Homo sapiens: one gene and its partner. The protein of the gene in region 1 interacts with the protein of each later gene in a pairwise test. Each region holds a gene or a part of one and is shown on either strand. Other genes may lie near its edges.

Region 1 (3,848 bases):
TGCTGAGTCCTCTGCCCTTCCCTGCCTGGTCCTCCCCCTGTGTCCTTCCTTACGTCCCTCTCGGGACAGGCAAAGCCCTACATCACCAGGGTTCTGTCCCGGGGGCTGCATGTCAAAGAGGTGAACTGTCCACAGGAAACCGCCTGTACGTCCACCCGGACTCCCCCAACACAGGAGCGCACTGGATGCGCCAGGAAGTTTCATTTGGGAAACTAAAGCTCACAAACAACAAGGGGGCGTCCAACAATGTGACCCAGGTAGGACCTGCTCTTCAAAAGGTAGCCTCGCCCTGCTCCCCACCCTGGGTCTGAGACCTCCAAGGCCACAAGGGTCCTGCGGGGCCAGTTTGGTTCATTTTTTCTTCCTTCCTACAGGAAGGAAGGTTCGTTTTTCTTCTGTCCTAAACGAAGGGTCATTTTTCCTCCTTCCTAAACTCTGGCTGTTTCTCACCCACCTTGGGAGGAAGATGAGATGGGATGAAGCTGAATCTTGGACGGGGGTCATATTCAGGCCACACAGGCCAACCCAGCCTCAGGGTTTCTTCACCAAATCATGGGTTGCCATTGCTCCGGCACCATGAAAGGCACAGAGTTGGCCCTGTGGTCCCAGGGAATAGATGCCGAGTTTCTCTAGGTTGAACAATCCTGTTAAAAGTGCCCTTGCTGGCTGGGTGTGGTGGCTCACACCCATAATCCCAGCACTTTGGGAGGCCAAGGCGGGTGGATCACAAGGTCAGGAGTTCAAGACCAGCCTGGCCAAGATGATGAAACCCCGTCTCTACTAAAAATACAAAAATTAGCCAAGCATGGTGGCGGGTGCCTGTAATCCCAGCTACTCAAGAGGCGGAGGCAGGAGAATCGCTTGAACCCGGGAGGCAGAGGTTACAGTGAGCTGAGATCATGCCATTGCACTCCAGCCTGGGTGACAGAGTGAGACTCCGTCTCAAAAAAAAAAAAAAAAGAAAAAAGAAAAAAGAAAAAAAAGTGCCCTTGCCCTAAAGCCCTGTTTGTGCTGATACCTTGGTCTCAATTGACATCTGGAGGTAGAAGAGGGGGCAAGAGGCTAGAATTGGTGCCCCAAAGAGTCCGGACACTGGAGTTGGAAAGCTTGGGGGAAGTTACATGGTGGCAGAGCAGGGGAATGGACAGGATGACCTCAAGGTGCTTGCTAGCCTCACGTGGGGCCAGCTGTTGGTGGGGGTGATGGGATCCTCGAAATCCTTCCTCCCCACCCCTACAACCGTCTTGCTCTGTCTACAGATGATTGTGCTCCAGTCCCTCCATAAGTACCAGCCCCGGCTGCATATCGTTGAGGTGAACGACGGAGAGCCAGAGGCAGCCTGCAACGCTTCCAACACGCATATCTTTACTTTCCAAGAAACCCAGTTCATTGCCGTGACTGCCTACCAGAATGCCGAGGTGAGGGCTGCCTGAGCCCCGGTGGGGAGGAGGGCAGAGTGGGGCCCACTGTCTTCCTTGGGAGGGATTTGGAAAGTTCCCGAGCCCCAGACTCAGGACTCAGGTGACTCTATTTCCCTTCTCTCTAGATTACTCAGCTGAAAATTGATAATAACCCCTTTGCCAAAGGATTCCGGGAGAACTTTGAGTCGTAAGTGCCACTGGGTTCAACTCAGCTTTGGTCCCTCCTGAGACACATCCTCTCCCTGCCCCTGAAAACAGGAGGGTGGGGGACAGATGCTACAGGTGGGCAGGCCAGGGAAGGAGGGTCGGAGAAGGAATGTGTGAAACAGGTAGGCTCACAGGTGACTGGTTCTGCTTGTGACCCGTTTTCTTGCCTTCTATTTTTTTCTAGCATGTACACATCTGTTGACACCAGCATCCCCTCCCCGCCTGGACCCAACTGTCAATTCCTTGGGGGAGATCACTACTCTCCTCTCCTACCCAACCAGTATCCTGTTCCCAGCCGCTTCTACCCCGACCTTCCTGGCCAGGCGAAGGATGTGGTTCCCCAGGCTTACTGGCTGGGGGCCCCCCGGGACCACAGCTATGAGGCTGAGTTTCGAGCAGTCAGCATGAAGCCTGCATTCTTGCCCTCTGCCCCTGGGCCCACCATGTCCTACTACCGAGGCCAGGAGGTCCTGGCACCTGGAGCTGGCTGGCCTGTGGCACCCCAGTACCCTCCCAAGATGGGCCCGGCCAGCTGGTTCCGCCCTATGCGGACTCTGCCCATGGAACCCGGCCCTGGAGGCTCAGAGGGACGGGGACCAGAGGACCAGGGTCCCCCCTTGGTGTGGACTGAGATTGCCCCCATCCGGCCGGAATCCAGTGATTCAGGACTGGGCGAAGGAGACTCTAAGAGGAGGCGCGTGTCCCCCTATCCTTCCAGTGGTGACAGCTCCTCCCCTGCTGGGGCCCCTTCTCCTTTTGATAAGGAAGCTGAAGGACAGTTTTATAACTATTTTCCCAACTGAGCAGATGACATGATGAAAGGAACAGAAACAGTGTTATTAGGTTGGAGGACACCGACTAATTTGGGAAACGGATGAAGGACTGAGAAGGCCCCCGCTCCCTCTGGCCCTTCTCTGTTTAGTAGTTGGTTGGGGAAGTGGGGCTCAAGAAGGATTTTGGGGTTCACCAGATGCTTCCTGGCCCACGATGAAACCTGAGAGGGGTGTCCCCTTGCCCCATCCTCTGCCCTAACTACAGTCGTTTACCTGGTGCTGCGTCTTGCTTTTGGTTTCCAGCTGGAGAAAAGAAGACAAGAAAGTCTTGGGCATGAAGGAGCTTTTTGCATCTAGTGGGTGGGAGGGGTCAGGTGTGGGACATGGGAGCAGGAGACTCCACTTTCTTCCTTTGTACAGTAACTTTCAACCTTTTCGTTGGCATGTGTGTTAATCCCTGATCCAAAAAGAACAAATACACGTATGTTATAACCATCAGCCCGCCAGGGTCAGGGAAAGGACTCACCTGACTTTGGACAGCTGGCCTGGGCTCCCCCTGCTCAAACACAGTGGGGATCAGAGAAAAGGGGCTGGAAAGGGGGGAATGGCCCACATCTCAAGAAGCAAGATATTGTTTGTGGTGGTTGTGTGTGGGTGTGTGTTTTTTCTTTTTCTTTCTTTTTATTTTTTTTGAATGGGGGAGGCTATTTATTGTACTGAGAGTGGTGTCTGGATATATTCCTTTTGTCTTCATCACTTTCTGAAAATAAACATAAAACTGTTGAATGTGCCTGCCTCAGTGCCAGCATGGGGGGACATGGATGGGGACTCAGTTGGGGTTGTACCCAAGCTGGTGTACCCAAGGTGTTCTGTCAGCTTTCATTTATGGGGAACCTGCTAAGACCCTGAAATGACTCCAGCTGAGTTACAGCAAGGCCACATGTCCTACCTTCAGCACTCAGGGGGTTGGTTGATGCTACCTCTTAAGGCATCTTGGGACGGACAGAGAAGAATCCCTTGCCCTGTGTGCACCCTGACATTGAAAGGAGGGGTGTGAGGGCAAGGCCAAGGGCTGGACTGGGAGCGGGGGTGCAGGGCGCTGTGAGGCGGTGGCACTTGATTTTTCTTTGCATTTCTAGCAGCCCTCCACCTTTATCTCTAGGGTTATTCAAGGATTAAAGAAATAAATATAAAATGAGCCATGTGAAATTACCATTTTTGTAGGTCGAAAAGCCAAATATTAGCAATTTTATGTGACTCAAGCTAATACATGTAAAGGGTTTAAGAACATTGCCTGACAAACAGTAAGCACTCACTGTGTAAGCTACTGTTACCAACAGTTTCTAGCTGTTTCTGTCTGTCTTTTTATACACACTGAATTGTGTTTGTAAAATAATACATACTTTTTTTTTTTTTTTTTGAGACAGAGTTTTGCTCTTGTTGCCCA
Region 2 (3,961 bases), on another chromosome or scaffold:
ATTATAATTATTATGTTAAATTATTGTGTGCCACAGAGTAACAGATTTCCTTGTCAATTGTGTCTTTAGCTATGGCTACCCTAAAACTTTGTCATCCATAAATAATTGTTGTCTTGTCTTGGTCCTCTTTAGAAGGTGGTTTTATAATCAGCTATAAAGCTCTAACAGGTGCTCTTGAATGCAAGTTTTAGATAACTTTGGAGATTGTGACATCAGAATAGAGAAAAAATGTTCAGGACTCTTGTCCTAGCACTTTGGGAAGCCAAGGTGGGTGGATCACTTAAGCCCAGGAGTTCCAGACCAGCCTGGCCAACATGACACAACCTGTCTCTCCAAAAAATACAAAAATTAGCCAGGTGTGGTGGTGCACGCCTGTAGCCCCAGCTACTTGGGAGGCTGAGGTGGGAGGATCCTTTGAGCCTGGAAGGCAGAGACTGCAGTGAGCTGAGGCTCACAGCTTTCCAGTCAGGGAGACAGGGTAAGACCCTGTCTCAAAAAAAAAAGAAAAAAAAAAGGCCAGGTGCGTTGGCTTACGCCTGTAATCCCAGCACTTTCGGAGGCCAAGGCGGGTAGATCACGAGGTCAGGAGATCGAGACCATCCTGGCTAACACGGTGAAACTCCGTCTCTACTAAAAATACAAAAAATTAGCCAGGCGTGGTGGCGGGCACCTGTAGTCCCAGCTACTCGGGAGGCTGAGGCAGGAGAATGGTGTGAACCCGGGAGGCGAAGGTTGCAATGAGCCGATATTGCGCCATTGCACTCTAGCCTGGGTGACAGAGCAAGACTCCGTCTGAAAAAAAAAAAACAAAAACAAAGAATTGGGGTCTCACTCTGTCACCCAGGCTAGACTAGAGTGGTACAATCATAGCTCACTGCAGCCAAAACTCCCAGGCTCCAGCAATCCTCCTCCCTCAGCCATCAAGCAGCTGGGACTACAGGTGTATGCCACAAACCTGGCTAATTTTTTTTTATAAGATATGAGGTTGCACTATATTGCCCAGGCTGGTCTTGAACTCCAGGACTCAGATGATCATGCCACTGTGCTCGGCCCAATTTTATTATTTTTTGTATGTCTATCCAACTGTCACAACACCAATTTATGAAAATAATATTCTAGGCCAGGTGCGGTGGCATAGGCCTGTAATCCCAGCACTTTGGGAGGCCAAGGCGGGCGGATCACGAGGTCAGGAGATCGAGACCATCCTGGCTAACATGGTGAAACCCTGTCTCTACTAAAAATACAAAAAAAATTAGCCGGGCTTGGTGGCAGGCTCCTGTAGTCCCAGCTACTCAGGAGGCTGAGGCAGGAGAATGGCGTGAACCCGGGAGGCGGAGCTTGCAGTGAGCCGAGATCGCACCACTGCACTCCAGCCTGGGCGAGAGAGCAAGACTCTGACTCAACAAAAAAAAAAGAAAAAAGTAAAAAAAGAAAATAATATTATTTCCCGATTCCTGGCACCGTTTTTGAAACTCAGTTCACTATATACACACACACACACACACACACACACACACACACACACACACACACACATATATGGGCCTATTTCTGGAATTTCAATTTCATGCCATTGATCTCTATGTCTGAATTGCCTCATGTATTTGATATGAAAATTTTGCTGCTACTGGAGACTGGGTGACATAAATTAAATTGTATATCAGAAAACCTTTGGCTGGCGCGGTAGCTCCCGCCTGTAATCCCAGCACTGCGGGAGGCCGAGGCAGGAGGATTACCTGAGGTCAGGAACTTGAGACCAGCCTGGCCAACAGGGTGAAACCCCATCTCTACCAAAAAAATAAAAATAATTAGTTGGGCATGGTGGCAGGCACCTGTAGTCCCAACTATGTAGGAAGCTGAGGCAGGAGAATCACTTAAACCCAGGAGACAAAGGTTGCAGCGAGCCGAGATGATGCCACTGGACTCCAACCTGGGCAATAGAGCAAGACTCTGTCTCAAAAAAAGAAAACCACTGAGGTCTTCCTAGAGGGTAATGGTCATCTACACAGTGCAGCCCATCATGTATATTTCTTTTTTTTTTTTTTTGTCGAGACAAGGTTTCACTATGGTTATGCAGGCTAGAGTACAGTGGTGTGATCTCGGCTTACTGCAGCCTTGACCTCCCAGGCTCAGATGATTCTCTCACCTCAGCCTCCCGAGAAGCTGGGCCTACAGGTGCGCACCACCACGCCGGGCTAGTTTTTTGTATTTTTAGTAGAAACAAGGTTTCGCCATGTTGGCCAGGCTGGTCTCAAACTCCTGGGCTCATGCAATCCACCTGCCTCAGCCTCCCAGAGTGCTGGGATTACAGGTGTGAGCCACCACACCTGGCCCCATCATGGGTTTTTCTTATGTGCAGAGTACTTATTCAAATCCACAGTGATTTCCCAGTTGACACACAGACAAGAACTATGGATTCTTAGAGAATATCCAAGTTATAATTGAATCAAACTGCAGAGAGAGGGTATCATTTTGAGTACCACCCCCCAGTTTGGTGGAAAAGAAAGTTGTGATATTGTGAAATATATAATTTGGGTTTTGTCCAGGGTTCCTGGCTCACAGTTGCTAAAAACCTTGTAATTTCCTAAGCGACTAGAGCAATTGGAGTATCTTTTGTTAAAATATTTGGGCTGCCTGTAATCCCACCATGTTGGGAGGCTGAGGCAGGCAGGATGCTTGAGCCCAGGAGTTCAAGACCAGCCTGGGCAACACAGTGAGATCCTATCTCTACAAAAAATACAAAAATTGGCCAGGCATAGGGGTGTGTGCCTATAGTCTCAGCTACTTGAGAGGTTGAGGTGGGAGGGTCACCTGAGCTCAGGGAAGTCAAGGCTGCAGTGAGCTGTGATGACACCACTGCACTCCAGCCTAGGTGACAGAGTAAGACTCTGTCTCAAAAAACAAACAACAAAAAAAAGGCTGGGCGCTGGGGCTCACATCTGTAATCCCAGTACTTTGGGAGGCCAAGGTAGGTGGATGCTTGAGCTCAGGTGTTTGAGACCAGTCTGGGCAACATGGCGAAAACCCATCTCTACTAAAAATAGAAAAAAATAGCCAGATGTGGTGGCGTGCACCTGTAGTCCCAGCTACTCAGGAGGCTGTGGTGGGATCATTGCTTGAACCCGGGGGTGGAGGCTGCATTGAGCCAAGATTGTGCCACTGTCACTGGGTGACAGAGTGAAGGAGACCCTATCTCAAAAAAAAAAAAAAATGGCCTTTTGTATTCAGTTCTTAAAATAGCTCTAGAAGAGTTCCAGAGTGACAGGTGGAAGAAATGTCTTTAGTTATTCATAACCATCCCCTTTCCACCACAGCTAAGTTTATGTTAATGGGGTGATTTTTGGAAAGCTCCTACAAACCACAGGATGTGAGGCTAGTTGCCAGGGAACCAACCATGTGACTGGAGCTTTGAAACTTTCAGCTCTGTCCCCACCTCCAGGGAGGGAAGAGAAAACTGAAGGTTGAGTTGATCACCCATAGTGAATGATGTGATTAATCATGTCACCATAATAAAGCCACCATAAAAACCCAAAAACACGGCTCAGAGAGCCTTCTGGTTGGTAAATAAGAACATAACCATATGCCTGGAGGTATCTCTTCATCTGGCTGTTCATTCGTATCATTTAAAATATCCTTTGTAGGGCCAGGTGTGGTGGCTCACGCCTGTAATCCCAGCACTTTGGGAGGCTGAGGCAGGTGGATCACTTGAGGTCAGGAGTTCAAGACCAGCTTGACCAACATGATGAAACCCCATCTCTACTTAAAATACAAAAATTAGGCCAGGTGCAGTGGCTCACACCTATAATCCCAGCACTTTGGGAGGACAAGGTGGGCGGATCATGAGGTCAGGAGTTCGAGACCAGCCTGGCCAGCATGGTGAAACCCTGCCTCTACTAAAAACATAGACACACAGAAAAAAAATTAGCTGGGCATGGTGGCATGGGCCTGTAATCCAGCTACT

Evidence for each region. The genes of interacting proteins can lie anywhere in the genome.
Region 2: the proteins of TBX21 (region 1) and ZNF490 interact in a two-hybrid assay, tested with the Homo sapiens proteins (one large-scale study listed by BioGRID and IntAct).

Annotation. Positions count from the first base shown.
Region 1 is NC_000017.11:47,742,936-47,746,783, forward strand, and holds the end of TBX21 (T-box transcription factor TBX21), read left to right. Parts: intron 1-135; coding exon 136-257; intron 258-1,259; coding exon 1,260-1,418; intron 1,419-1,546; coding exon 1,547-1,608; intron 1,609-1,812; coding exon 1,813-2,431; 3' UTR 2,432-3,187; downstream 3,188-3,848. UniProt on the Homo sapiens protein: Lineage-defining transcription factor which initiates Th1 lineage development from naive Th precursor cells both by activating Th1 genetic programs and by repressing the opposing Th2 and Th17 genetic programs.
Region 2 is NC_000019.10:12,600,593-12,604,553, forward strand, and holds part of ZNF490 (zinc finger protein 490), read right to left. Parts: intron 1-3,961. UniProt on the Homo sapiens protein: May be involved in transcriptional regulation.